7 linked regions of the Homo sapiens genome follow. The protein of the gene in region 7 purifies or fractionates together with the protein of the main gene of each other region. This does not show direct contact. Each region holds a gene or a part of one and is shown on either strand. Other genes may lie near its edges. The genes, in order: ATP2A2, PFKFB4, HACD3, ARF4, NUP93, CPVL and TRIM55.

Region 1 (3,366 bases), on a different chromosome or scaffold from region 7:
GTGTCGTCTGGCTACAGAATAAAGGCTCTGGAGGAAAACCCCATGAGGCAGACACAATCGTTGCAGCTGTGAAAGCAGCGAGACAGGCAAGAGGACAAGGTCTTGGTTAGTGGTGCAGAGGGTGAGGTTGATGGAGAAGTGAGCAGCCAGTAGCAGCACAGCCTTCCTGTCCCTGCCCTGTGGGCACCCGGCTTCTGGCTGCTCGCCTGCCTTGCCTAGCCCTGGAGAGGAAACTCCTCCGCATCATTCTCCTCAGTAAAGGAGGGTGAAGCCTACCCTTCTTGCTAACTGCAGCGGGTGTTTGGACAATTTGGTGGTTACAGTCACAGGGCAACTGCTGGCTCTGCTCACAGGCACTGCAGACGTGGTATGCTCTGGCCCTGGACAGTGGCTAGATGCTTGGTAGACACTGAGCTAATCTTGTGGTCTCAGGTCTTAGGTCTGCCCACCTCAGTCAGGGCTGAAGCTCCAGTCCGAGGGGATGTGGGAGCAGCTGTTGTGAGGGAAGTCGGCCAGATGCCCTGCTTGCCTGGGAGCTCACTGAGCTCAAGGGACAGCTTCCTCCAGAATGGATCATCTGCATTCTGCAGAGTGGTGTCCCAGTTAGGGTATGTATGATTGTTGGTCTTCTGGGCAAAGCTCAGAGAGGCCAAGGGAGGCACGGGGTGGCAACAAGCGACACTGATGGCTGGGCCTTCAGCCACCTGCCCATCAGGAAAGAATGTGGAAGTAAGTTTCAGGCAAGAGCTGCCTGACAGCAGGCACATTGCGGGGCTGGGCAGCTGCTGCCTCACTGTTAGGTGAGGGCCTGAGGCCAGGGATGTGCCAAGACCACGGTGCTGGACCTGGTCTTTATGGGTTGACCTGAGGAGGAGATGCTGAAGTGTTTTCACCCAGCAAAGCCTTCAGTGAAATGGAGCAAGTGGCCCTGCTCAAAACAGCAGTGGGCCTAACCCACTCCCAGCTGTCTGGACCAAGGGAAGTGGGTCCCTCCATGGGCTCCTCTGTGGGCTGGAGGGGTCTGAAGCTGAGAAACCATGAAGCTAACTAGGGGCTGTGCGACAGCAGGCCACACACTACTCAACTTTTTTTGTAAAGGCCACTAAGTCAAGGAACTGAGTCAGGAAAAGCTGAGTTTTGTTTGCACGGAATAGCAATAGTGCAGCACTCAAGTCAGTTTGCAGCCCAGAGATGCACTCCTTGCATTTGGCCCATTCAACCCATTTCTTGTTACACCTCATGATGCTCAAACTGGCAAAATTTACCCCCTGCCCCAAATGTTCCCTGCTGGGCAAAGCAGCCTCCCTTCCCGAGAGCCACAGCTGCCTGCGAGCAGCCTTGGAGGCTTCACAGTAAGGCTGATTTTTTTTTGACAGGGCCTCACTCTGTTGCCCAGGCTGGTTTGAGTACCTGGGCTCAAGCAATCCTTCTGCTGTGGCCTCCAAAGGGCTGAGACTTACTTACAGGCATGAGCCACCACACCCAACCACGGACTGTGCTTTTAAGAGTCGGTCTCCAGGTTCCACCTCCATCCCTTGAACGTGGGCCCTCTGAACTCAGCAGCACCTTGTCCTGCTTGATGCCTCCTAACCCTCCCCAAACTCCAACCATCTGCATTACATCTACTGGCCATCCCAGTAACCAGAGCCTAAGTACATTTTGAAGAATATAGTCGAGGCCTCACACCCTGGCTAAGGAGTAAGCTGGTTTTTGGGCTGTGCAGAGCCACGTCCTACTAACTGTGCTTTAACATCCCCTGCAGAGCTAAGTCTTAGCCACCAAGGACAAGACCAAGCAAGGGGGGGTGGGGGAGTGGGGAAGTGGCCTATTTAAGACGAACCTATCGATACCCAGAGTTCACTGGTTCAGTTACTTGCTTTCACTAGTTTTTAGCTTTTTAATAAATAAGTAGCAATGTTCTGGGATGACTCCTGGCAGCTGCGAACCCTCATTTTAGCAATAGTCTGCACAGCTCCTTCAGCCTGTTGGTCTGGCTGAAATGCCTCTCTCCCCACTCCGGCTTTTGTCTGGCTTGGGCCCTCCTGGTCATCTTGTCCTAGGCAGCCTGTGGAGGTCTATGAAAGCCACACCTCCAGCCAGCTGATGCTGCGCCCGAGTCACATGGCAGGCGCCACAGGCAACCCCGGTGCTCACAGGGCATCAGGGAGCACAGCAGCATCTGCCATGGAGGCGGCTTATAAGTTAGTGACATACAGTTATCTCACTTGGTGGCAGTCACCTTTAGGCTAAAGCATCCAAATCCCAGGAAGAAAATACTCACGTTAGTTGATGGATGTTGGAAGGCATTGGAGGAAAACACCACAGTTAGGACTGTTAATGACTTACACACTGTTGGTGAGACTCATCTCGAACATGCGCAAACATTGATCGTAGTAACGGTGGTGGTGGTTAGTGCCACATTCAAATAAAAATAGTTCTATACAATATGTTCATTTGGTCATGTGCTATTTACAGATTTTACAAAACACACACATACACACACATACACACTTGCCCTTATGTTCTCTATACCAGGCCAGCAGAAACTTGCATAAAATGTACATCACAGATGACAATTAGTGCCTGTACATTAAGAATACAATTCCTATGACTACCTACACAGCAGAGCAGGAGCCTTCTTCCCCTCAAGCAGAGTACAACTAAAGTTCTGAGCTAAGAACTGGAGAGAAAGTTGGACATGTCTGTTAGTCCCAGGTAAGCCACTTACGAGTTAAAGACAAGACAGTTATTTTTCTCTGTCCATTTAAAATGTTTTATTTTTTTAAAACTAGATGACGTGCCACTGAAATAGGCAATGTTGGCAAAACAATGTCTGTTACAATAAAATACATTAGACATTTAAATAAATAACCTTAAAAACTATGTGAAGGGACATAAACCCAGTCGATTGAATCTGGAACAATGTTTTCTGCACAAGCGAGTACAGGCATACCTCTCGTTAAAACTGATGTAAACAGAACGAACCATCACAATCCTAAAGAAGAAGCCAAGCGGGGCGGGGGTAAGGTGGGGAGAGGTGGGGTGGGGTGGGGTGAACGGAGGCCAAAGTGGGTGAGGGAAGTAGCAAACCAAAACAATACTGACTGAGGTAGCAAGACTCTGCTCAGTGCAGAAAAATTGGCTTATGAATAAAAATTAGACTGTGATATCAAATTAAATCCGGATCATCATGCAAAAGACACAATACATGCTATTTAGTTTTAGAAAAAAAACCACACACATTCATTTCCTAAAATCTGCTGCCAATTAATTTGCTGACAATGTCTGCTGGCTCAACTATTTTTTTTATACAAGGATGAGTATTAAACAGAACACTGTACATGCTTTTTCATCTACAAAAAAATA
Region 2 (4,693 bases), on a different chromosome or scaffold from region 7:
CCCATAGCCGCAGGGTCCATGAGATCACCCTCGCCTTGAACACTCACTACAGGTTTGGTAAAAAGCATGAACTAACTTGTCGATGACACACATGCTGACACACAAGAACACAAGTGCTGTTCCTGTGCACCCTCCCAGACCCTGAGCACAGCAGCACAGTTACAGCTGAGACTCATCAGGGCCACTGCCTCCCCACAACCAGGTGCCCTGTGCTACGTGACCACTGAGGTCTCCCCTGGACTGTGGCACAGCTATCTGCTACACTGTATGGACTCAGGTCGCTCTAAGGGTGGCATGCCTCTGACAAAAGGGGCTCAGTGAGTGACAGCTCACATGGAAACCAGAGATCCAGGCATTTGCCTGTTGCTTGATGACCTTCCCTACATGATGGGAAGATTCTAGGTTGAATGAAGGTCATTCACCTCGACTGCACATTAAAAGAATGGGAGCCTAGCCCCAGCGCACTCACACATGCATATACCCAGCCACGCAGGGTACAAATGCAGGCCCGTGTGCGCACGCAGGGACACATGCACTGACCTCCCTGCCCCGAGGGGACAGTCCTGGGTCCCCGCCAATCCGGCCCTTGAGGTTGAGCTCGCTCTCCCCGTGCCGGCAGAGGTAGATGGAGCGGGGGGTCACGTGGATGTTCATGAGGTAATATACGATGCGGCTCTGGATGTGGTCAGCCACACGGTTCACCACGTAGCTCTGGCCCACATCCATGATCTTGATATAGGACAGGTCCCTGTCCAGAGAGAAAGTAGAAAGAGGCCTGTGAGCGTGGCCAGGGTTCTCACAGAGCACATCTGGCTAGCCACGGAATCTAGCTGCGAGGCCTTGCACTTCCAACCACCAGAGATTACAACCCTCAGGACCGTCAGCTGGTGTGCGAGTGATGGGGGTGAGGCGGGAGCAACACAGTGCGTGTGACGCACAGGCAAACCCTGTGGGAGACGGGAGATGGGAGGTGCTCGTCACTCATCATGCTTCCCAAAGGTGACATCCAAAGTGGGGGGTCCGCCATACCACATCATGACTTTCTCCGCTGCTCATGTGTCCCTGGGGCCCCTGTTGGCCTATCTCCGCACTCTCAATACACTGTCTGTAAGTTGAACCAAGAGACAGTTTTCCCGAGGGTTGTTGACTTGGGAGTAGCTGGCAAACGCTCCACGCCCTCACTCTTCCTGGTCAGCTGTACAAGGACCTGGCCTTTCCTTCCCCAGTGACCTCCTCCCACTAGAGCCCAGTCCTGGTCATCCAAGTGTGCTGAGCAGCTGCCACACCCCATCCTGGGCAGCTGGTGGATGAGACAGGAAGCACAGGAGGATGGTGCTGGTGGTGGCAGCCGATAAGTCCAGCTCAGCCACTTTCCCTACTCTGGACCTATGTGGCACTGCAGCTTGGACAGCACATTGATCAGTCTCTGGGTGTGGGGGTGCAGGGTGGGCTCTGGTTCAGGCTGAGAGTCCTCTGGATATTCTCAGTTGAGCTCTCACTGTCTGGACCTTGGGACCTTGGTTTGGGGGTGTCACGATGACACCACCAATAAAAGCAAGAGCAACGCTTACTGACAAATCCAACAGAAGCCGCTCCAGACAAATGGATCACATCACAGAACCATGAAGAGAAATGCTGTGCTGGGGGACCATGAAAGCCATAGAGAGGCCCAGGTGGCAGGTGCCATTCAGCTCAGGCCCGGCCTGGGCTGGCTCTAGAACCCAGCTGAGGACCCTGCTCTATGCACACCCCAAAAGCATTCATCTCAGAGTTGCTTGTGTTTCTTGGTTCATGTGCATCCTTTTTTTTTTTTTTTTTTTTTTTTTGAGACAGGGTCTCACTCTGTCACCCAGGCTGGAATGCAGTGGTGCAACTGCAACTCACTACAGCCTTGACCTCCCTGGGCTTAGGTGATTCTCCCACCTCAGCCTCCCGAGTAGCTGGGACTACAGCCATGCGCCACCACACCAGGCTAATTTTTGTATTTTTTGTAGAGACGGGGTTTCACCATGTTGCCCAGGCTGGTCTCAAAATCCTAGGCTCATGCAATCCTCCCGCCTCAGCCTCCCAAAGTGCTAGGATTACAGGCATAAGCCACTCTGCCCGGCCCGTATTACACAATCTTATAGAATTACAGAACCTAAGCACAAGTTTGTATTCCAGCCTTTTCACTGAATGCAATATTATATTTTCCCATGTCTCTCCACAATGACGAGTTGTAATGATGACTGTAATACTTCACCAAGGGCTACATTATTATTTACCCAGCCACTGCCCCATGTGTTCTGTAAGACAGGATTTGGTAAACTGTGGCCAGCCAGTCGAACTCAGCCGTGGGCTGTTTTTATCAAGTTTTACTGGAACACAGCTATGCCCATTGATTTACATATCATCTATGTTTCATTTGTACTGTGACAGCAGAGTGAGTGCCTGCAACAGAGACTGTACATCCTCCAAGGTCTAAATAAAATATTTACTCTCTGATCTTTGACAGAAAATATTTGCCAACCCCTGCTTTAAGACCCCTTGCATAGAAATTCGGCTTGATTTCATGATGGAATAGTATAAAATCCTGACTCGCAGAGTTTTGGATGAGGTAACCGGTGTTCTGCAAGTCACCTCTGACCAAACATTTCTGCCCCAAGGAAATAAACAAGAAAGGTCAGACCATCTCTGCTTTTTGGTCCTCCAGCCACCACCATGGGGAGCCATAGGAGGCAGCCAAGTATGACCCCTGCCGCCCACCATCACAGCTGCAGGGCCTGGCGCTGCCCTGACTCACCTATCCAGGTCCTCATCTAGCGACTCGTAGGAGTTCTCATAGCACTCAATGCGCCTCATGAAGTCCTCCGTAGCCTCATCACTGTCGCGGTTGACATAGTCAGGGCTGCCCAGTTTCACTTGCTGCCGGAGCCAGGCACAGAGAAAGGACATATCAGGGTCAGGAGCCAGGCGGGGCCAGAGACCAAGGAGACTGCTGGGCAGGGGGCTGGAGGAGGTTGCACCGGAGACCAGTGCGGGAACCTGAGGCTGGAAGCTGAGGTGGGGGCTGGTCCAGCAGCTCCCTGGTCTGAGTTCTCACACCAGTGCCAAGAGGGTATCACTGAGGGTCCAGGGATTGAAGTCCCTCATCCTTGTGGTACAGGGGGAGGCCTGGAGGCCGTTCCCCACCCTGAACTCTCATTTTCCCAGACCCAGATGCCCATTCCTCAGATAAACTGGGGGAGGGGAAGGAAAGAATGAGTCTTTCTTTCTCTGAAATATAAAACATGCCCCTCACCCACCCTTCCACCCCTGCTGAAGGTGCTCTCCTAGTGTCCAGGTGGTTACGAGGCGGAGGTGGGGTGAGTGAATGTCCACCAGCCACCCAGCCTTCCACAGTGATCCACAGAGGGCGAGGCATACCTGACCCAGCATTTGAAGTTACACTTCCTCCCTACCCCCACAAGGTTCAAGATCAAATTAAGGTTAGCCAAAACCTGAAAAGGGATGTCCCTGTCACACACGACCTTCTGACAAGGTCAGATGCACTACTCACCACGATGTTGGCAGCTATGACCTCAGGATCCACACAGATGGACTCGACAAAAAAGGTCTGCGGCAGGACCAGAAGCGCCGGGGTGGTGGGAGGGAGGAACACGGACATGTTCAGGGCCTCCCGCCTTGCTCCTCGGAGCTCTCCATCCCCTGAGGCCCATGCTGACAAGCAGCCAGGCCCTGAAACCCTGCTTCAGAGGGCTGGAGGCGGGGTCAAGGAGTCCAGAGCTAAAGCAGGTGCTGCCCTCTCCTAGACTCTCCCACGAAAACCCCCTTCCCTCTGGAAAGCAAACCCCAAGTGGAGACAGCCCCTCTCATCCCAAATTACACTCAGGAGCCATGCCAGCCCCATGCCCCTCATGCATAAGCAGGCGGTGAAAGGAGCCCTGGAGGGCAGGGGACATGCCACAGTTCCGCCAAGGAGAGGAGCCAAGGAGGCCTCACCTTGTAGCCATTCTGTTCTCCAAAATTAAAGATGGTCGCTCTCCGTTCTCGGGTGGTGTTTGTGGCATCAAAAACCTAGGACCAAACTAGGGTTAACTCAGCCTCTGGCCCTGGGGAAGGAAGGGGCCAGAGTGGGCCCTGAAGTGGGCAGTGAGGGCCGCAGCACAGGCTCTCTGGGGACTGGATTTCTCATAAGGACCAGCTGCTGCCAGGTCCACCTGCCTGGCCAGTCTCCTCCAGACTTGCAACGGCTGGGCTGGCCCTCCCCTTCCTTGGAGAGAATGCCCCAAGGAAGTTAGAAGGAGAGGATGCCTGTGCTCCCAGCAGGGGAGCAGACCCGTGGCACAGAAGAACCTACTCAGTGCTGCTCTGCACACAGTGGGCACTCAGTTTGTGTTTGACCAACAGGAATTGCAGTGAAACCAGTTAAACCTAGTAAACTGAACCTATGTTTATTTCTACTCCATCCTGACACCCCAGTAAAATGGGAACAGAAGGATAAAGAGAAAAAGAGATGACAGGAGAAAAAGGAGACAACAGGAGATGGAGACATCAACACAATTCTGTCAGAGAGATCCACGGTGACGGACTCAGAGTCATGTAGGAAACCAAACACAGGTGCTGGCCAACCAGAGCACACCACCTGTGCAGGACCAGAGCACTCCAGAGGGTGCAGTGGCATTGCTAAGAAAAGGGACAAAGGTGGGGACGA
Region 3 (4,693 bases), on a different chromosome or scaffold from region 7:
GACAGTATCTAGCTGTCGTCATATTCCACAGCAAAAAGCTTATTGCAGCGGCTCAGGAAGGAGTACAATTTAGAACAAATTAACAATACAATAGACACAAAGCAATTTTTCCCCAGTGGGTTTATTTATTTATTTATTGCGACAGGGTCTCATTCTGTCACCCAGGCTGGAGTGCAGTGGCACAATCTCAGCTCACTGCAACCTCCGCCTCCTGGGTTCAAGCAATCCTCCTGCCTCAGCCTCCTGAGTAGCTGGGATTACAGGCGTCCACCACCATGCCTGGCTAATTTTTTGTATTTTTAGTAGAGGTGGGGTTTCACCATGTTGGTCAGGCTAGTCTCAAACTCCTGACCTCAAATGATCTGCCCAGCTTGGCCTCCCAAAGTACTGGGATTACAGGCGTAAGCCACCACACCCAGCCTCCCAGTGAGTTTAAAACATTTTTTTCTCTTATAAAATTTTCAAACACGCAAAAGATTAAATCATTATACAGGGAACATCTAGATTTACTGCTTTTTACTATATTGGCTATATCACATCCCTATTCATCTATCCCTCCAGCCATCTCATTTTTTATGCACTTCAGTGTTAAGTTGCAGATATCAATACACCTCACCCCCCTAATTCTTCAGGTAGGTATAGTTCAATATTCTTTCTTTCTTTTACAGTAAAATTTACAATGAAATGCACAAATCTAAAGTGCAGAAACAACCTAATTTTTAATTCAAGCCTACTCAAGAACATGGCCAGGCGTGGTGGCTCACGACCGTAATCTCAGCACTTCGGGAGGCCAAGATGGGTGGATCACCTGAGGTCAGGAGTTTGAGACCAGCCTGGCCAACATTGTGACGCCCCATCTCTACTGAAAATACAAAAATCAGCCAGGCATGGTGGCAGGTGCCTGTAATCCCAGCTACTCCGGAGGCTGAGGCAAGAGAATTGCTTCAACCCAGGAGGTGGAGGTTGCAGTGAGCCAAGATCGTGCCACTGCACTCCAGCCTGGGTGACAGAGCAAGACTCTGTCTCAAAAAAAAAAAAAAAAACTAAAAAGTCCTTTGACCTATATACAAATGTTAACTGGCTGTTTACACTGCTTCAAAATTATAAATGTGAAATTAGGATTTATTTCATTCTAAAGAATAAGAAAAGAGCAACTACATATTCACTATAAGCAAAGTAGATATGAACATAAAATCTTGCAAATTAGAGTGTACAATATAAACAACACAAAAAAAGATACTAAGTCAATGCACTTTAAAATATTTCTACCCCTCTACCCTGTTCACTAAAATATTTTAAATGTCTTTCCAATATTTATTCCTCTTTATCTTATGCCCATTTCATGGGGCCTAGTTATACTGAATTTATACAGTAATAAAGGTAAAAAGCTGTCTTTAATTAGTACATTTTCTGAACTGAGGGTTCCTCTCTTCAAGGGCAAAACATTTTAATATTTTTGGTTGGCAATATTTCTGAAATGGATTATACCCTTTGCTGAAACAGAAAAAAAGAAAGAAATTTTAACCTTTTGCAAATGACGTGGGCCTACAATGTATACTATTTAACTGTACATCTGCCAGGCACTGGCACACTAAGGGGCTCCTAATACTATGGTATAAGTCTCTCCTCCCGCAACACTAAATGACCAAGACCACTGGGCTTTCTGGCTTCCTGGGCTTACCTTGCGTGGTCTTCCTCTCACTGTCTGGGGTAGCAAGCCGTGACAATGATCCCAACAACCTCTATCTCCTGTTATTTCATACCTTTGTGTAGTCCCCTCCCATGTTATACTGGGTTGGTCTGTGTGATGATTTGTCACTTCTGAGATTAGGCACTGTGGCTTCGGGCTCTCTCTCTCTAACCAATTGCTTTGGGGGAAGCCATGCCATGAGTAGCCATATGGAGACGGGCTATGGCAAGAAACTGAAGCTTCCTGTCAACAGCCACAAGAGTGAGCTTGGAGCAGATCCTCCAGCCCCAGTCAAGTCTACAGAAACTGCAGCCCCAGCTGACAGCCTAACTGAAACCTCATGAGACCCTGAGCCAGTACCACCCAGCCAGGCTGCTTCCTGACCTTCAGGAACTATGTGAGATAATAACTATTTATTGTTTTCAGCTGCTAAGTTTTGGGGGTCATTTGTTACACAGCAATAGAGAACTAATATACTATTGTTGCATCCTTCTGTGGCTAGGAGACTGGACAGTTATATTTATTTAGGGCCACCTTAAGTCTTTTGTGAAATAAAGCAAGGAGAAATATATAAATTACCACTAAAATGTATCAGAACTTTAAAGAGTCCTTATAGTTAGGAGCTTGTCTTATCCTTAAACATGTAAAGTTCTATGTATGATAATCAGTGTTTTCTCCTCTCAAATATATTTAATGACAAAATTCCTTTCATTCTGTTTTTATGTTCTTAGTTGTCATACTAAAATCGATACGTATTAGTTTGCTCTTAAAAGGAAAAAATTATTTTTCTCAAATTGTATTTAACCTACACATAAGAATGTATGTATTTTCACATCTATGTATAGAGTATAGTATAGATAATATGGGTAGAATCATGTATAGTTGCATTTAGAAATTACCAAATACTGATTACTAATAAATTTTTTTTTTTTTTGAGACAGAGTCTTGCTCTGTCACACAGGCTGGAGTGCAGTGGCACAATCTCGGTTCATTGTAACCTCTGCCTCCTGGGTTCAAGCGATTCTCCTGCCTCAGCCTCCCAAGTAGCTGGAATTACAGGCATGCGCCACCAAGCCCAGCCAATTTTTGTACTTTTAGTAGAGACAGGGTTTTGCCATGTTGGCCAGGTTGGTCTCAAACTTCTGTCCTCAAGTGATCTACCCACCTCAGCCTCCCAAAGTGCTGGGATTACAGGCATGAACCACCATACCTGGCCTCTAATAAGAATTTAACAACAACAACAACAAAAAAAAATCCTTATAGTTAGGAAGCCTTTTAAATTTGTCATATTTGTAATAATTTAGGTTTCTTTCTTTTTCCCTTCTGTTAGTTTATAAAGGCAGGAATTTATGATTTTATATAAATTAATAGGTCAGCAGGTTTTCCATGAGGAGCAGGGGACTTTCCTATTGTGAGGTGGAAGGCTTTATGACAACCCTTGGCTGCTCAGAGGCCTTTATTCCCTTCTTCCTTCCTTGCTGCTGGTTGTCTTATCACCTCTATAAACTCTGGATGAGGAATATGCTACTGAAATTAGTAAAAGTGGGAGCTTCTTAGTCTATTTTAAAAGGCTCCTTACTTTTTTTTTTTTAATTTTTATTTATTTATTTATTTTTTTTTTTTTTTTGAGACAAAGTCCCGCTCTGTCGCCCAGGGTGGAGTGCAATGCTGCAATCTCAGGTCACTGCAACCTCTGCCTCCCGGGTTCAAGCGATTCTCCTGCCTCAGCCTCCTGAGTAGCTGAGATTACAGGCACCCGCCACCACACCCAACTAATTTTTGTATTTTTAGTAGAGACAGGGTTTCACCACGTTGATCAGGCTGGTCTCGAACTCCTGACCTTGTGATGTGCCCACCTCAGCCTCCCAAAGTGCTGGGATTACAAGCGTGAGCCACCATGCCTGTCCCCTTACATTGTTTTAAACAAGAAATATCTTATGGTATATTCCCAATCACCAAGAGCACTTAAAGAACATAATTTAACTGCTGGAGATTTAGAAAAGAAATATTTCCTTACCATAGCATATTCCCCTAGTGGGTCTGTTTTTGCAAAGTAATCATTCTCTAATTCTGTCCCAAAAGAATTCTCATATGGACTTTTACATTTCTGAATGATTTAATTCTACTGTCTAAGAAGTGACAAGAAAAAGTCTGTATTAAAGAATCAATACTTACCTAAAAATATCATTATAAGATAAATCTGAAGAAAAAAGGAAAATCTAACTTTGATTTTCACTGGATATGGCAATGTGAAACTGAATCGTCCGGTCTCATTGAATATTGGAATGGACTGAATCACTGAGACAGCTGAAAACAGAAACAAGAACTTGTTAGAAGCAAATGAAACAGTCACATTTAATGACAGGAACTTCCAGTCCTAGTACTCTAAAGTTTCAGTTCTGGGTGTGCTGGAAAGGCTTTCTCCTCCCTTTGTACAGAAAGCTCATGCCTCTCCTTTTTTTCCCCTACTTTTCTAAGAGATCAGCCTCCAACCTGTCAACAGAGAGACAGATGAGGAAGTCATGGTAGTGGGCTTCTTCTATTCTATAAAATGGAGAGGAAAATCCCTAGCTGACTTATGTATGAGATGTTTGTCAGAATAAAATAAAGTCATCAGTAAGAACCCCCTTTGGAATACTAAAAGCATCATACAAATGGGAAGCATGCAGGACATAACCACCTGGCTTTCCAATGTTACAAAATGAGCTACTTTTCTCGAACAGTCTGGGTACCAGGAGTATTATGGAAGGAAGCCCATGGAAAGAAATCCCTGAAAAATCCAACATTTCCATTTATCGGACTAAGGCCGGGGAAGAAAGGACTGGTCTCTCAGCCTCTGGGTACCCCCTGGAGCTAAGCTATGAAAGCTAAGAGTCCCTGAGAGTACCTTCCGCCAAACATCCCAGTGGATATAAGGGAATCCACAGAGTGTAACGAAGCCATGTGAGCACCTTCCAATCCATGTCAATGCACGTCAGCATGTAGAAAGAGTACCTATTGAAA
Region 4 (4,693 bases), on a different chromosome or scaffold from region 7:
CTCTAATCCCACCACTTTGGGAGGCTGGGGTGGGAGGATCACATGAAGTCAGGAGTTCAAGATCACCCTGGGCAGAGTAAGACCCTGTCTCTACGAAAAAAATTAAAATTTTAGTAGGGCATGGTGGCACATGTCTATAGTCCTAGCTACTTAGGAAGCTGAGAAGGGAGGATCACATGAGCCCAGGAGGTTGACTGAAGCTACAGTGAGCCATGATCATGCCACTGCACTCTAGCCTGGGTAACAGAGTGAGACCCCATCTCAAAAACAAAAAATAATGTTTGATGCTTTGGGAGCCAATATAGTGTGGTGGGAAGACAGACTCAAATTCAAATCTTATACTACTTGTTATATATATTATCTAATCCTTGACTATGCCTCGTCTAAATAAAATAAAAATACTAACTTCATAAGCTTGTTAAAGATTAAATGCAATCACAGAGATATAAAAGATCATTGTTCTTGGCTTATCATGGGCATTTATTTAGCAAATATGTCTCCTCCTTTCCATATTTCAAAAGCTACTCCTTTTTAGAACCAAACCTTCCATTTTTTTGTTTCTTCTTTTTTTCAAAAAAGAGGCAAGGTCTCCTTTTGTCCCCCAGGCTGGAGTACAGAGGCGCAACTGTAGCTCACTTCAGCCTCCAACTCCTGTGCTCAGGTGATCCTCCCACCTCAGCCTCTCAAGTAGCTGGGACTACAGGAGTATGCCACCATGCCCAGGTAATTTTTTTTTAATTTTTTTTTGTAGAGACAGGGTTTCACTCTGTTGCCTGGACTGGCCTCAAGTGATCCTCGTATCATGGCCTCCCAAAGTGTTGGTGTTTCAGGCATAAGCCATAGCACCCGGTCCTGAAACCTACCCTTTACAAGAGGTAATGCCCCTAAAAGGGACCTAATTTTATTTTGACTGCTAACTTCCCATTTTTATTCTTTTTTTTTTTTTTTAAATGTAAAGACAGGGTCTCACTATGTTCCCCAGGCTGGCCTCAAACTCCTGAGCTCAAGCGATCCTCCCACCTCAGCCTCCCAAAGTGCTGAGAGTACAGGCATAAGCCACTGCACCCAGCCTTTGTTTTAAAATGCAAATAATGCTATCAGTCCCAAAGTGACATTATTGAGAAGGAGAATTATTTTAGGTATTAATCCCTAATTATTTTCTTCCTGGAACAGCCTAGAATCAAGAGTGAAGAAAAGCTAGGATTCTACAGATAAGCCCAGCTGCTATGAAATTATTTGAAAAGCCAAATATTTACTTATTTACAATGGCAAATTAGTTGGAATTATAAGAGGAATTTACTACACACTGTGCCATGGTTTGTTAGTATAAGTTAGAAACATGGTTAAAGCTATAGTTTCTTTTAAATTTTATAGCTAGGAGAACTGATCAGTAATGCTGGGAATGCAAGCTAAGAGCTTAGCTTTGATTCTATCAGGTAACACATAAAGCTTTCCCCAGCTAGCATGAACTCCCTAGGAAGCAGTACTTAGACTTTTAATTCTCAGATGGTCCAAAGAGGCCAGAATTGGGTCTAATTTCAAATTAAGAATGCAAAGTAAATTACAAAGCATTCTAAACAAATCTAGGGATAAACCCAGGGTTACCCTTGGTCAAGAATTATTAGGCTTAAGGATTAGCAAGGTTTTACTTCATATCTAACTCTTTCAAAATATATTGGCCAAGCGCAGTAGCTCATGCCTGTAATCCCAGCACTTTGGGAAGCCCAGGCAGGTGGATCACATGAGGTCAGGAGATCGAGACCAGCCTGGCTAACATGGTGAAACCCCGTCTCTACTAAAAATACAAAATTAGCCAGGTGTGGTGGCGCATGCCTGAAGTCCCAGCTACTTGGGAGGCTGAGGCAGGAGAATCGCTTGAACCCAGGAGGCAGAGGTTGCAGTGAGCCAAGATTGCGCCATAGCCTGGGTGACAGGACGAGAACTCCATCTCAAAAAAAATAAACAAACTGTCTAGAGGGTAGAGCACATTAGAGATGAGTATGAAACAACACAGCACTGCTTATATCCTAGTAACTGAAGCTGCATAATACATACATGTGAGTTTATTATGCTATTCTATTTGTAGGTGTACAGATTGAGTTTCCTTAATCCAAAAATCCAAATCCAAAACTTCCCGAGCACCAACATAACAAAGAAAAAACTCCCTGGAGTATATCGGATTTTGGATTTCTGGATTTAGAATGCTCAACTGGGTACAATGCAAATATTCCAAAACCCCCAAAATTCTGAGATCAGAAACAGTGGTTTCTGGTCCCAAGAATTTCGGATAAGGAATGTTCACCTTGTATTTAACATTTTCCATAAGGAAGCTTTTTAAAGCATGTGCCTCTGTATCAAGTATCTTTTCTAGTCACAGCTATATTGATGACCATAAACATTCTACTATTTTTTTTTTTTTGAGACAGAGTCTCGCTTTGTCACCCATGCTGGAGTGCAATGGTGTGATCTCGGCTCATCACAACCTCCACCTCCCGGGTTCAAGTGATTCTCCTGCCTCAGCCTCCTGAGTAGCTGGGATCACAGGTGCGCGCCACCACGCCCGGCTAATTTTTGTATTTTTAGTAAAGACGGGGTTTCACTGTGTTGGTCAGGCTGGTCTTGAACTCCTGACCTCGTGATCCGCCCGCCTCAGCCTCCCAAAGTGCTGGGATCACAGGCATGAGCCACCGTGCCTGGCCTAAACATTCTCGTTTTTAAATAAAAAAGTATACCACTTATTTAATATGACATACTATGTAAACCTGGTTGTCCCAGCCACTCACCTAGGGTATTCACTGCCACCTGATGGCAATAAACCCCACTTGTATGCAATGTTTTAAGAGGCTGATAACAAGATGACATTGCAAGTCTTAAAAATATAAAGTGGCAGTGATATCACACTTAAAAAAAATTATTAAGTAATAAAAAAAAACTGACAAGAAATTCCTTGGGTGGTAGAAAACACAATCGAGGTGGGACCAGGTTAAACAAAGGTAGAGTGAGAACAAACTCTCCCATCTTGGGTAAGTCATTCCAAGTTTCAGTTTCCTCATATGTAAGAGAGTTAGATTAGAACAGTGGTTCTCAGCAGGGAGCAATTTTGCCCCCAGGGGATATTTTGCAGGTGTGGAGAGATTTTTGGCTGCTACTTGAGGGCAGCTGCTATTGCCATCTAGTGGGTAGAGGACAAGGATGCCACTAAACAACCTACAATGCATAGAGAGCCCTCCCCATACCCAACAACAAAGAATAACCCAGCCCAAAATGTCAATAGTGCTGTGCTGTAAGATACCAGACCAGTAGTATCAGCACAACCCGAGAACTTGCTAGAAATACAGAATCTCAGGCCTTAGCTAGGACCTATGGACTCAATGTGTATTTTTAACAAATACCCAGGTGATTGATATGCATATTAAAGTTTAAGAAACACTACTGTACCTGGATTATATCCCCTGATATTCTGATTCAAGTCATCTAGGGGATGATCCAGGTCTTGGGATTTTCAAAGGTCCCCATGTGATTCTTACGTGCCACCCCCAAATTTGAGAACTCCTGTTCTACAGGATCACTAAAGTCTCTTCCATGCCAGTATTATATATACATACTATGTGGCAATATAAAAATATCTTACAAATCAATGCAGCGAACTGACTTTACTGTATTTAATAAAGTAAACAAGTAACTGGGCTAAACAAAGGACTATCAATTGTCTTACATTCATCAGAAACTACAATGACAGTTTATACAGACCTTACTTTCTAAACTAAGATGGAAAGCAAAGAACTACGGATAAGAGACCTAATTCATTCTTGTGAACTACACCAGCACCCACCCCATCTTCCAAACACTTACCGCAATTGCTTTACAACTCTTCCACCCTATATAAGTTAGCCTTCAAGGCCTAAGTGAGAGTCCACTGAAGAATGTGGAAGTGGTGATAAGACAAATGCCAACTCATAGTAAACACCAATATCCAAGTAAATACTAGATACTAATAAAAACTTTAGAGCATGAAACCCACAAAGAAAAGTTATAAAAACATACAGTATCCCTTACCTGGGTATTCTGGAAGTAATGCTTCCAGAGAGGCCTAATTCTATCTTGACCACCAACATCCCATACTGTGAAACAAATGTTCTTATATTCTACTGTTTCCACATTAAAACCTACAAAGAAAAACAAAAATGACCGCTGTGCAGCGTCATTAAGAAAATAAAACCTTTTATTGTGGAATTTTCTTAGAATAGTGTTTTTAAAGTACTTCTTTTTATTTTTAAAAAATATATTTAAGCCTAAACATCAACAGAGACAAGGCCTCATTATGTTATGCAGGCTGGTCTTGAACTCCTGGGCTCAAGCAATCCACCCGCCTCGGCCTCCCAAAGTGCTGGGATTACAGGCATGAGCCACCACACCCGGCCTGTTTTAAAAGTACTTCTAAGATAATCAACATGCTTAACAAAAAGACAATCTCAAAACTAGACTGTATATATTTCACTTTACAACATATCATGATATAAAGTCATCTGTAAACTTTCTTACCAATGGTAGGAATGGTGGTGACTATCTCCCCTAACTTCAGTTTATACAGAATGGTTGTCTTGCCAGCAGCATCCAATCCAACTAGAAGAAGACATTATAGATTTAAAATCCAGACCAAAAGCACACTCCAAGAAATAATTTTACAATAAAT
Region 5 (3,500 bases), on a different chromosome or scaffold from region 7:
TTATCCCATTCATCCCATTTGATTCCCCTCTTTTTTCTCTGAAGACTTATGGAATATGTTTATATCTTTGTCCAATAATTTGAGTAAACTTTTTTCCTTCCACAGTTCGATATGATTCTTGGGAAACTAGAGAATGACGGAAGTAGAAAGGTGAGTTAAATGCATCCTTAGAGAAATGTTCGTTAGCCATTGGGGATTTATAAATATCAAAAAATACACTTAGATTTTAAGATTCAAGGTACTAAAGATGCAAATCTGAACAGAGTTGCTTAATTTAAAAAATGGAATGAAAATTATGGGCCCAAATGATGACCTTGGTTTTACACACACTTATATCTCCTTAAAATATGTTAATTTGTGATTACATAGCTTTTTTATTATGTTCAGAATATTCATTTGTTCATGCCTGTCATTTTTTGAGCTGAGAATGCTATTATACATTTCTGCCATTCTTGGCTCAGAAAACATGCAAGGAAAAGAAATTGATTACTGCACCCATTCTCCCAAGATGGGAAAGTTAGACATGCACTTGACCTCCTTCAAAATGCAGTTTCCAAGGGCTTTGAACTCCACAGTGACCCTGGAAATACTTCTGGAAGCTTGAGGGATTTCAGGACTCACTATGCCCATTGGTTGTCATGGCAGGAGGGTCAGAGATCCTGTTGTCAGAGACCAGTCATGACCCTGAATCTCCCTGTGGCCCTTGGAAAGTCACTTGTCCCTCAGGGGCTGAGTTTTCTCGTTTGTAAAAATGAGTGATTTGGACCCAGCAATCTGTAGATGAGCTCACACTGCTCACACCATCTACCTCAGAAGAAAGGCAAGTGACAGTGCTGATGACAGTGGCCTTGCTTATTGGGCAGTGACAATCAACAGGCATTGTGCTGAGTGCTTTGCATAGTTTCTTCTTTAACAGGCTGCACTGGGGCCAGGAGGCTCCTACTGTATGTGAGTTGACAGAGCTAGAAACATAGATAAGACCTTATCCTCTGCTACCTCCCAAGTGGCAGGGCAAGTCACCTCAACCTGGTCCAGCCACCTTGACCTGGTCTAGCCCTGAGAGTCCAGCGCTAGTGGAGAAGCAGAATGGCCAGGCAGAGATGTTATGCACTTGCCTTCATTCTCCCAGGGTGCCTAAGGCCTCTCTCATGCTCTCCTGACCATTTAGTTGCTGTTGAGTGGTGATGGTGATTTTTTTTTAAGAAATGTCCTGTTACCAGCCGGGCGCGGTGGCTCACGCCTGTAATCCCAGCACTTTGGGAGGCCGAGGCGGGTGGATCATGAGGTCAGGAGATCGAGACCATCCTGGCTAACACGGTGAAACCCTGTCTCTATTAAAAATACAAAAAAATTAGCCAGGCGTGGTGGTGGGTACCTGTAGTCCCAGGTGCTCGGGAGGCTGAGGCAGGAGAATGGTGTGAACCTGGGAGGCAGAGCTTGCAGTGAGCCGAGATTGCGCCACTGCACTCCAGCCTGGGAGACAGAGCAAGACTCTGTCTCAAAAAAAAAAAAAAAGAAATGTCCTGTTACCACTTGCTGTGTGTTTTTTCAGCACTGAGTTCCTTTTGCCATCTGTCTTAGAAAGCAAATCCAAAATTTTTCAGATATTTTTTCTAAGCCTCCTGATTTTTCTCTCTAGTTCCTACTTATCAGCAAATTTAAAATCATTGATTTCACTGACTCTCTGGGTCATTTTGGAAAATTAGAAAGCACAGATGTCTTATTGCTGACTCCTCTGTGCTTCTAGTAAGTCTGCCCTTTCATGTGTAGTTTCCTTGGTCTCTTTTATAGTTTTAATAGGACTTTATATCTTTAAGAAAGCCAGAGTCTGGCTGATGAAATATATGCGTTGCCCAGGGCAAGCAATTCCACTTGAAGTATTTTTTGGATCCTAATTGCTTCTCTGTGTTTAAAATAATAGCTCTGTGCACCCGTCTCTCTCTTCCTCCCCCTCCATAATTTGTCTTGTCAGCCTGGAGTCATAGATAAGTTTACTAGTGACACAAAGCCTATTATCAACAAAGTTGCTTCTGTGGCAGAAAATAAAGGACTGTTTGAAGAGGCAGCAAAGCTGTATGACCTTGCCAAGGTAAAGTGTGCCCACTTCCTTCTTTTGCACTTCACAGGTCTGCTGGCCTTTTGGCATTAAATGTGCAGCCACTTGGACAGTGTCATTGTTGTAGCACCCTCCCTGCAGAGGCATTTGCTCTAGTGCTTAGACAGTTAATGGTCCAGTCAGGACAGAATTCCCATTTTACAGCATTATTTCTGCCCATAAGATTTTTCTGACCAAACAACATATTGAAAGGATGTCCTGCAGGCATTGAACTGTTGTCTCACTTGGCAGCAGAATTAGCATCCATCACATTTCGATGGTGAAGCCACTGTTGAAAATTACATTATGCTGACCCTGGCAACCACAGACACACTGGGGAACAGTGGTGTTAGAAAATAAGACCACATCAGTGTGCAGGAAGGAGTGAAAGAAAATAAGACCTTAGCTGGGCGTTTTGAGAGGACTAGAATACATGTTTCTACCGAAGAACAAATGATGACTAAGAACATATGATAACTGCTAAGGATTCTATGACCTAAACAAGATTACATTCTCTCCTTTATCAACTGAGAAAAGTAGACAAAAAAACAGCTATAGGCCAAGTGCAGGGGCTCACGCCTGTAATCCCAGCACTTTGGGAGGCCAAGGCAGGCGCATCACTTGAGGCCAGGAGTTCGAGACTAGCCTGGCCAACATGGCAAAACCCCGTCTCTACTAAAAATATAAAAATTAGTCAGGCATAGTGGTGCATGCCTGTAATCCCAGCTGCTCAGGAGGCTGAGGCACGAGAATTGCTTGAACTTGGGAGGCGGTAAAAAATGTCACCCCAGAAAGTTCTCTTTGGTGGGTAGGGGGCATTATATAGTTGTTCCTTTTATTGATTACTTTATTGATTGCTTCCTTAATTTTAAAAACTTGAGCAGAATGCTGACAAGGTACTGGAGCTGATGAACAAACTGCTGAGCCCTGTCGTCCCCCAGATCAGTGCCCCGCAATCCAACAAGGAGAGGCTGAAGAACATGGCACTCTCCATTGCCGAACGGTAAGCCAGGAGCTGGCTCCATGGGACCCTGAGGGTGCCACTGCCAGTGCCAGGCCACCTATGCCCACCCAAATGCATGTTCAGCTTTACTAGGTAACAGCAGACAGCTTTCCAAAGTGGTTCTACTAACTCACCATGCCACCAGCACTGTGTGAGTTCCTTTGTCCCCGCATCAGAACTAGTACTTGGTACTATCAAACTTAACATTTTTGCCAAAGAAATGGGTATGAAAGGGCATCTCAGTATTTTAATCATGCACATAAAGCTTAATTTTAAGCATTATGCTCGCCTAAATACTGTTGTATACTTTCATCAGCCCTCTCAAAGGCATTCAAGACCAAAGCTAGTGATGGTTGGATGGGGGAGATTCTTAGAGGTGTCGTGGCCAGTGTTTCAGACTAC
Region 6 (4,693 bases), on a different chromosome or scaffold from region 7:
CCAGCCTGGCCAACATGGTGAAACCTTCTCTCTACTAAAAAATACAAAAACTAGCTGGACATGGTGGCGGGTGCCTGTAATCCCAGCTACTTGGGAGGTTGAGGCGTGAGAATCACTTGAACCCGGGAGGCAGAGGTTGCAGTGAGCCAAGATCGCAACATTGCACTCCAGCCTGGGCAACAGAGCAAAAACTCTGTCTCAAAAAAATAAAAATAAAATAAAATAATTTAACCACTTTCCCCTGATTATTCCTTAAAATGAAATTCCCTTTGGCACACACCACTTCTCATCCTTTCTTGAGAAAGGAAGAGTTGCAGAGCCAAAAAGATGACTGGCCGTGTGTAAGAGCCAGATTTCTCTTATGTGTTGCTTTGTTACATGAATCCCAATGACGTCAGGGATAAATGAAATCAACTGGTTATTCTGAAAATGCATTTTGCCTAATGGTTGTATTCATTCACTTTACCCAATCACAGTGTTTTGAGTCTCTCCTTAGGGTGTGAGGTTGAAATGATGAATGAGAAAGGGTCCCTGTTTGGAAGTAGGTCAAGTCAAGCCATTGTGCTGTCTGGTTGAAATGCTCTGCCTTTGCTGCCAGTGGAGGTGCCAGTGGAGAGTGAGGTCACAGAAAAGGAGCCCTGGAGGTTCAGGCAAAGAAGACATGGGCCCTGGAACTCCCACTGGGAAGGAGGACACCAAGAGCAAATGACATGGGGAAAGTCAGCCTGTGTATTATTTCTTTCCTGGTACTACGCTCTCAGCTCCTCCTCTGGTCCTCCAGTGCTGTTAGCCTTTGCCCAAGGGATCGTCTCTAGGGCAACTCCGAAGGATGCCTGTACTGATGACTGGGGAGACCACCACTGAGTGATCCACTTCCTCCCTATATCCTGTTTTGAATGAACAAAAAACAGGGCAGTCGGCAGCCCATAGGATTTTTGTATGAATTAGAATAAAGGCATCCTCTCCTCAAGATACTTTATTTCGATCTTTCAGAAATTGTCCTGATATACTGCCTTAGTTAAAACCAGACTCTTTACTGCCATTTGCTGGCATGCTGAATATTCATTTCTACAATGTGTATATTAGGAATGGTGTGTCTTAGGATTGTTCAGTGCACAATCTGCAATACTATCCAGGCAGTCCCTGGCCAATGCACCCTAACTAGACTGTGGTTTAGAATATGCCAGACCTAGGAGGCCCATTTCTGGGTCCTGCTTCTAGTACAGTGTTGGACACGTAACCATTGTTGAAAATAGTTTAAGACCAATTATATGCCAAGTCTACAAACCCATTATAAACCTGCAAAACTTGATGAAATACTTACTTTCTTGGAAAGAAAGAGTCTAACTAGGTCAGGCCAGCATTTCAGCCATCCTTGTGTTTGGTTTTCTTGGGGACATGTAGTGGCCCTTAGTGCTTGCTGCTTCAAGACTTCTCAGAGGACCTCCAGAAGGCACTGCTGTTTGTCCTCTCCTCTGAGCTCTCAGAACGCGTTGTCTTTACCCCCATAGGTGTACATGGCACACTCTAACGTGCAGACTCTCAGTCTGACACCCATACCACCACCAGCCTGGAGCAGATGTCAGGAATGAATGAATGATTAGTGCTGTATCAAAAATATATCTATAAACCTGTCCATAATCCATTAGGTGCTTATTATCCACAAATTTATTAAACCAAAAAGAGGTTAGCGTTCATGTCTTAAAGATGATGTTCTGTAATGTGATGTTAAGGAATGGAACGAGTGAATTTTTTTGAGAGGAGAGCAGATAAGTTTGATATGTGTTATTTGTGCCCTTGGGAGATATATTTTCTCACTGTACACACTTTTTTTTTTTTTTTTTGAGATAGAGTTTTGCTCTTGTTGCCCAGCTGTAGTGCAATGGTGCGACTGGCTCACTGCAACCTCCACCTCCTGGGTTCAAGCAATTCTCCTGCCTCAGCCTCTCAAGTAGCTGGGATTATAGGCATGTGCCACCATGCCCAGCTAATTTTGTATTTTTAATAGAGATGAGTTTTCTCCGTGTTGGTCAGATTGGTCTCAAACTTCTGACCTCAGGTGATCCGCCCACCTCGGCCTCCCAAAGTGCTAGGATTGCAGGCATGAACCACCGCACCTGGCCTCACTGTACAAATTTAACTAGAATATGATTCCTTTCTCAGCCATGTGAGGGTAAGGTGGGACAAACAGCTTACCTGATGACATAAACTCTCCTTATGTTTTGACTGATAAAGGAGAATATATTGATTAGAGGTGATCCTGCATTTTGATATTTAAACTTCTCTGTCCCTCTTGCCCATGTATCCTAAACTTACCACTATGAATTCCAATAAAATCAAAATCCAGTATTTTCTAAACTTTTCTTTTCTTTTTTGAGACAGAGTTTCACTCTGTTGCTCAGGCTGGAATGCAGTGGCACGATCTCGGCTCACTGCAACCTCCACATCCCGGGTTCAAGTGATTCTCCTGCCTCAGCCTCCTGAGTAGCTGAGATTACAGGCACATGCCACCATGCCTGGCTAATTTTTTTTCCGTATTTTTAGTAGAGACAGGGTTTCACCATGTTGCCCAGGCTGATTTCAAACTCCTGACCTCAGGTGATCCACCCGCCTCGGCCTCCCAAAGTGCTGGGATTACAGGTGTGAGCCACCGTGTCTGGCATAAACTTTTCAACTCTGAATCGGTTGCCAGAAAAAGAAAAGAGTTTAGTGGTATAGATAAACCATATTTCCATAAAGAAACAGAACAAAATATGCCACCAAAAAGTGGCTGCTGCTAAAACAGACAGCATGTTCACTCACGCAGCTGGCAAAGCGCTTGGGATAGTGATTATCTTTGGCTTGTCTGTTAATGATGTTGAACCTCAGTGTTCAGAACGGGAATCAGAACAACCTAGGTTGGCTTAAAACGTTAGTACCATTAAAGTCATATTTATGTAAGACTCGGTACTAATTTGTCATAGAAAATAGCATGCCTGTTTCTATTCATAGGAACTAGAGGTCTTTTTCCAGTACTGGGTTCATTTTGGCCAATGTGGAGCATCTCTGATGGTTGAAGGAAGACCTTCCTGGGTTTCTGGAATTACGTTTTCATGTAGTTTCTGTATAAAAATTAGCTTCTCTGTAAACTACGTTAGTTTCTATGTAAGCTACGTGAAAACATAATCCTTTTCTTACAGTGATATACAGGAGATGCATACTCAAAAGTCATTTTCCTTTCAGTAATTTCAGATGTTTGGGTGGTAAATTGAAATATCATATTGGCAGTTTCAAAAATAACTAGAAAGAGAAACAATCTGTTGGGCTATTTGAATTCTTTATGACTGAATGAAGTCAAAACATGATCAGGACTTTTAGGAGTTAGCTGGTTAATAGAGTATGGTGGTTATGAACATGTTCTTAAGTTGCATATCTTGAGTTTGAGCTCTGGTTACACCAGTCACTGGCTATGCTCCTTTGGGAGAGGAAACTTAAACTCTCTGCGCTTTGGCTTCCTTGTCTATAAAACAGGAATAAAAACAGTATTTATGTGTGAGTTTCTGTGAGGTTTAAATGAGATTATATATGTAAACACACTTAGAAGAGTGCCTGATGGTTAGAAGGTGCTTATTTATATATATATAAGCTATTACCAAAAATGTTCAACAAATTTTGTGAAAGTCTTTAAGATCTTGCTACATTCAAAAGTTATACAAGAAACCCTGGAAAACACAAAAATAAAAAAGAATGGACAGGCTTCCAGTTTCCATTCCAGTGTGTAAGAAGCTTAGAAGTCTCCACTCCATTGTAACAACAGTAAAAAGCCAAACAAACTGAAATATAATCAAGAACTCTTTTTAGATTTGTTGAAACTGAGGTCACAGGGCAAATTGCTGCCCTCCAAAATTAGAGAGAGAGATGAATATAGGGAGTCAAAACTTAACAGGAGCAAACCTGTAAGTAGAACCCTCCATGGAAACAAATGGTGAGGAAGGGAAACCTGAACAGTAATTGGTAAATTACTAGAGGCTCCATAGGGACAAGTCTGAGAGTTTAAAACACCATGGGTGGGGAGAGGACTCAGCCAAAGGTCACTTGTAAATGACCTTTATTATGTTGAGGGACTTTTCTTGTATACCCAGACTGTTGAGTGTTTTTATCAAGAAAGGATGTTGGATTTTGTTGAATACTTTTTGTGTCAATTGAGATGATCATGTGGTTTTGTCTTTCAGTCTGTGATGTGTCACTTTGATTAACGTACCTATGTTAAACCAGTCTTGCATGCTAAGGGTAAATCCCACTTGATCATGCTGTAGAATCTTTTTGGTGTATTGTTGAATTTGGATTGCTAATATTTTATCGATAATTTTTGCATGAATGTCAGAGTTACAGCCTTGCAGTTTTCTTTTTTCTTATGATATCTTTGCCTGGCTTAGGAATCAAGATAATACTTGCCAAAAAATCTATGATTAATATGCTAAGGATTTTAATGGAAAAAGTAGACAACCTGCAAGAACAGATGGATATTGAAAATAGAGATATGGAGATTATAAGAATCAAAAGGAACTGTTAGAGATCAAAAACACTGTAACAGAGATAAAGAATGTCTTTGGTGGGCTCACTAGTAGACTGGACACAGCTGAGCTAAGAGTAGCATGAGGATGTAATAAATAAAAGCTTCCAAAACTGAAAAGTAAAGAGAACAAAGACTTAA
Region 7 (4,461 bases):
CCACGAGGATGGCGATGCCATCACTGAGCTCAGACTAATGAAGAGAAAACATGAACCCAATATCTTAGGGGTTTCCTAGCCACCCCGACTGTGAATTGGTCATAATATTGTCTTTACAGGTTCTTAATTTAGGATCCATGCAACCCCTAAGGACTAACAGGGAGGCCTGTGGACCTTCTGATATTGCAAGCAAACCTTTGTGTATGAATCCATTTGTGCAGGGAAAGGTTTCACAGTTTTCATCAGTCTTAATATTAAGATCAACATGTTCAAGCTAAAGAATTCTAAGTATTGTTTATAAATAGCATGGAGACCAATATGTGACTTCAGGGACCCAAATGGAATTATTTGCCTAGTGGAACTAAGGGTCAATTTTACTTGGGAAATGTGTATAGTAAATACTCATTTATTCAACAAATACTTATTATGGGCATAAGAATATAGTGTATACAGACACAAACACTCACACATTAGACTAAGTCATTACAAACTTCACACTGAAACAAAGAACTAGTTCTAGGGGAGAAATGTCAACTTTTAAATTCCTTTGCTCTTTTGACTTAGGAAGAGATTCTATTGTTCCTATTTACCCCCTTCCCAAGACTGGCTGATGGAGCCACCAGGAGCACTGGAGGGGCACTTGGGAGACCCATGCGCTTGGTCCAACTCTACCCCCAACTTCTCTGTGATGTTGGGCAAAACATATATTCAATTTTGACCCTAATTTTCTCACATTTAGAAGGAGAAGATTGGACCAGAACAGTGATTATAAAATATTTTAAAGCTGCAGAACCTTCTTCAAGTGAAAGCTAATATGGAGGTGAAGCTGCTTTGGCCAAACAGGAGCAAGGGTGAGGGTCCCACCAGTCTGTTCTTCTGTCCATCTCACATGAGTCTCCAGGCTCTGAAGGAAGGAGTGTGAAACAGCTACCATCCAGTTCTATTATGCTATGCTTTGGGGGAGGTGGGCAGAAGAGAAGGGGGAATAAATTGTAACTGGATTCAAAAATAAACAAATGTTGTGGATAATTTGCAAAATCTGTTTCTTTAGGACTTAGTGGCCACTAGCTGTAATTGGTGTTGCCCAAGAGTTTTGCTTCCAAATTTGATTTCAGCACTGATCTTCACAGTAAAACACTGATCAAATGTGGAACTGATGATTCTAAATGAAAGAAACTGAGTAGTGGAACTGCTCAAGTTCTCGGTGCCTGGAGTGGCTGCACCTATTGGAGTACCCAACTCCACTTTTATCTGTACCAGATGGATAAATTCTGACCTGCTCATGAATGAAACCAGGTTGGCAGGTTGGTAATGTGTAGAGGGAGACACTGTCTTTCTGTCTGCTCAGAATTAGGGGGCCATGGCTGAGGCCCTGGGGTCAGGGGGAGACACCACACTCAGAGGGGTTTTTAGGCAACTGGCCCTGGTGACAGGAGGGCCAGCACAAGTCTGTGTTTTAAAGCTGTTCTGTAACTGCATGTCATCAGTGTAACCCTCCCTCACTAAGAGTGCGGGATAAAAGGCATTGAGGAGGGCCAAAGAAATCTTTCATGGGTGGATGAAGGAAAGTATTCTGTGACTAGGGTAAAAAGCTGTCCTTTTCTTATCTGTAGTCTAAACTTCACATAAGCTGGAGCAGTTTGAGCTTTTGCTGGGTCCCCTAACATTGCTCATCATCAGCAACCTCCAAAGGGCACAAAAACAGGGATCGTGCCGTTCTGCACCACTTCCTGAACCTGGGCACCCCTGCCCTGTCTCGCCTGGTCCCCCACCGTCCAGGGAATTTGGTGTGTGCCTCGTGCACAACTGTGCACATGTCTTCCTGCAGACCTTGTGTGCCCTCCAGTGTCCCATGGCCCTGCGTGGCTTGGGCTTCCTCCTCCACCGCAGGGAGCCACTCACACTGGCCCCAGGAAGGCCCTAAGGTGTGGGGATGGGGAGGGGTTGCGGGAGGGAGGGAGCAGCTCTGTTACCTTCTGTCTCTGGAACACATGAGTGAGGGGAGCCACCTGGCAGTCTTTGTGTGCACCAAACACCTTGCACAGAGAGCAGGTGGGTACTTCGCAGTTCAGACAGTAGATGTTGATGCGCTCCTCTTCATGTTCCTCGCACATGGGCTGGTCGGATTTCTTTTCTGGCCTGGGAGGAGGTAGGCAGATAAATGTCCATCAGCTCTCACTGGGGCAATCTCATCAAGGCAGAGCTGATGTTGCTCTGCCTTGCAAATTCCTTCTCTTCCCTGTATGCCCAGCAATTCTATTCCAGAAGACCCCCAGGGGCCCTTTCACATGCTCAGAGCCCACCAAATTCAGCTTCCCTGCAGGTGTAGCAGGGGAGTGCTGGCAAATCTCTAACAACCTGCTTGGGGTAGGGACAGAGACGTGGAGATCCTGATTTGTACCATTTGCCCATTTCCATGGTGTATTTCCACATGGCCAATTTTAAGTTATTTAAGGTTTCAGAATCTGGTAGTGAAATTCCTGAAAGTAGAATATCGAACCCTGGTGAGCCATCAGGAACGTGGTCCAGCACTGTGTCTACATGCTCACAAGTTTCTCAAGGGACACTTTCCCATTATGGACCAAGAACAGGAAATTGTTGATGAACTAAAAGTCGAGTTTGCACCAGCTTTTAGGAGTAGCTAGATCGCCCCCCTCCAGCCTCTGGCCCCAGGAAAGACCCTTTTCACCTGAAGAAATGAGGATAGGTGTGGCTCACATGGAACCAAAATCTTCTGATTATTAATTCAAGTACTGGTTGGATGCAAATGTGTATGAGACGCAAGTGTGGGTGTACCTCCTTATATAAACCCCAGGAATTCTGATATATCCTATCTAATGACTGAGGCTGCTAATAGTTTTCAGAAGTATTCAAAAAATTCAAATCCAAATCCAGAAGCTTTCTTCAAATTTCCAAACACATAGTTATTTAGCAACATCTTAGATTTGGGACTACATTTTGTTTTGTTGCTATACAGATCCAATTTTTAAAAACTACAGGTTTTTATGAGCCATGAAATCAATTTAGGGAGCTATGATCTGCATTGTTAAAATAAAAATAGAATGGAATAGCAAATACTGTGAATTACATGTAGTAAAAATAAGTATTGCTGTTCGAAACTTTTGTTTCAGGTGTACGTGTGTATATATGTGACTGAAACAAAAGTATATGTGTGTTTGTGTGTGTGTGTGTGTTTGTGTATGTGTGTATATACATATGTGTGTGTATATATATCCGTCCATATATGTAAGTGGTCACAATGTAAAATGCACTTCCTACTGTAAATCATGAATACAAGTGTTTGAAACCCATCTTTTTTGATGTGTGGTATCTTGTAGCTGCAGACCCAGAACTCAGAGAAAGGCAGAGAACGTGCTGATGTGCCTCTGTAAGACGCTAATGTTCCTTTATAAGTTGCTAGGTGGACGTCAATTACTTGAGATTAGGCTAAACATTGGGAGAAGCCCTGGGTCTTGTAAGAAAATTGCACGGACTTCCAGTTTCAAAATTTTAGAATCTGACTGTTGCAAAAGGAATTTCTGTCTGGTCTTGCAGCAATATGCTTTCCATGAAGTCTATGACCTTCTGATTTGACCACATTATTTGGAACTCAAATAAGGAAGTCAACTCCACAATTGAGAAAATTATCCTCCTCTCAGGTCTGTCTGTTTCCTCCACTAGAATATCAGCTCCATAAGGGCAGGGGCCATGATGAGTCTTTTTTTTTTTTTGCTGCATCTCCAGTACTCGGAACAGTGCCTTGCACAGAGGCAGTGGCTCCATAAATATTTGTTGCACAAATGAGTGAGACAATGAAAGGGAATTTGACCTATTAAATGGACAGTATTCCCTGTGCTCTAGTGTAACACCACCCAGCTGGAGAAGGCATGGCAAATATGGGGAAAGCCTGGGATCACCTGGCACTCCTGAGTGGCAGAGGAAGAGACCAGACCACATCCTGATTACTCCTTTAATAAATGACAGTGCCCTCTGGGGTTGGGACTGGCAAGTTGGTCTCTGCCTGGTCAAAGGCTTCTTCCCCTCTAAACCCTTCCCTCGTAGGTATCTCCACCTTATTATTAATGTGGGCTAAGCAAGAGTGGGCAGCTTGGGTCCCACATGCTGTTCTGATATCAACAGCTGTGACCAGAGATTGCGTCATAGAGCACAGGTCTATGCAGTATATGCAAATATTGAAAATGTGAAAACAGCCATAAGGCTCTACATTTAGTTTTGTTTGTGATTCAATTTATTTATTTTTTTCATGGTGCTGTATACACTGAGAACAATTTCCCATATTCCTCATTGGGTTTTTCTTATTTAGGTTGTAGCCCAGCCCCAGAGGCACCACTTACTCATAGATGAGCATATAATGAAACCTCTGTACAACTTCAAACATGTAACTGACTTGGGACCGATTTGGCATGTAAAAGAATGACATAAATACATGTTTATGAGGTG

Evidence for each region.
Region 1: the proteins of TRIM55 (region 7) and ATP2A2 purify together in Homo sapiens (affinity purification with mass spectrometry, with the first as the bait; one large-scale study listed by BioGRID). This does not show direct contact.
Region 2: the proteins of TRIM55 (region 7) and PFKFB4 purify together in Homo sapiens (affinity purification with mass spectrometry, with the first as the bait; one large-scale study listed by BioGRID). This does not show direct contact.
Region 3: the proteins of TRIM55 (region 7) and HACD3 purify together in Homo sapiens (affinity purification with mass spectrometry, with the first as the bait; one large-scale study listed by BioGRID). This does not show direct contact.
Region 4: the proteins of TRIM55 (region 7) and ARF4 purify together in Homo sapiens (affinity purification with mass spectrometry, with the first as the bait; one large-scale study listed by BioGRID). This does not show direct contact.
Region 5: the proteins of TRIM55 (region 7) and NUP93 purify together in Homo sapiens (affinity purification with mass spectrometry, with the first as the bait; one large-scale study listed by BioGRID). This does not show direct contact.
Region 6: the proteins of TRIM55 (region 7) and CPVL purify together in Homo sapiens (affinity purification with mass spectrometry, with the first as the bait; one large-scale study listed by BioGRID). This does not show direct contact.

The regions. Positions count from the first base shown.
Region 1 is NC_000012.12:110,346,707-110,350,072, reverse strand, and holds part of ATP2A2 (sarcoplasmic/endoplasmic reticulum calcium ATPase 2), read right to left. Parts: 3' UTR 2,681-3,366; coding exon of another isoform or gene 2,661-2,680; 3' UTR 1-2,660.
Region 2 is NC_000003.12:48,535,716-48,540,408, forward strand, and holds part of PFKFB4 (6-phosphofructo-2-kinase/fructose-2,6-bisphosphatase 4), read right to left. Parts: intron 4,057-4,693; coding exon 3,982-4,056; intron 3,596-3,981; coding exon 3,539-3,595; intron 2,905-3,538; coding exon 2,783-2,904; intron 749-2,782; coding exon 541-748; intron 1-540. UniProt on the Homo sapiens protein: Synthesis and degradation of fructose 2,6-bisphosphate.
Region 3 is NC_000015.10:65,571,539-65,576,231, reverse strand, and holds part of HACD3 (very-long-chain (3R)-3-hydroxyacyl-CoA dehydratase 3), read right to left. Parts: intron 4,685-4,693; coding exon 4,578-4,684; intron 3,998-4,577; coding exon 3,866-3,997; intron 1-3,865. UniProt on the Homo sapiens protein: Catalyzes the third of the four reactions of the long-chain fatty acids elongation cycle. This endoplasmic reticulum-bound enzymatic process, allows the addition of two carbons to the chain of long- and very long-chain fatty acids/VLCFAs per cycle.
Region 4 is NC_000003.12:57,579,842-57,584,534, forward strand, and holds part of ARF4 (ADP-ribosylation factor 4), read right to left. Parts: intron 4,624-4,693; coding exon 4,543-4,623; intron 4,167-4,542; coding exon 4,057-4,166; intron 1-4,056.
Region 5 is NC_000016.10:56,834,629-56,838,128, forward strand, and holds part of NUP93 (nuclear pore complex protein Nup93), read left to right. Parts: intron 1-105; coding exon 106-150; intron 151-1,972; coding exon 1,973-2,089; intron 2,090-2,979; coding exon 2,980-3,098; intron 3,099-3,500. UniProt on the Homo sapiens protein: Plays a role in the nuclear pore complex (NPC) assembly and/or maintenance. May anchor nucleoporins, but not NUP153 and TPR, to the NPC. During renal development, regulates podocyte migration and proliferation through SMAD4 signaling.
Region 6 is NC_000007.14:29,059,095-29,063,787, reverse strand, and holds part of CPVL (probable serine carboxypeptidase CPVL isoform b precursor), read left to right. Parts: intron 1-4,693. UniProt on the Homo sapiens protein: May be involved in the digestion of phagocytosed particles in the lysosome, participation in an inflammatory protease cascade, and trimming of peptides for antigen presentation.
Region 7 is NC_000008.11:66,132,668-66,137,128, reverse strand, and holds part of TRIM55 (tripartite motif-containing protein 55), read right to left. Parts: intron 2,140-4,461; coding exon 1,974-2,139; intron 35-1,973; coding exon 1-34. UniProt on the Homo sapiens protein: E3 ubiquitin ligase that plays an important role in regulating cardiac development and contractility, muscle growth, metabolism, and fiber-type differentiation.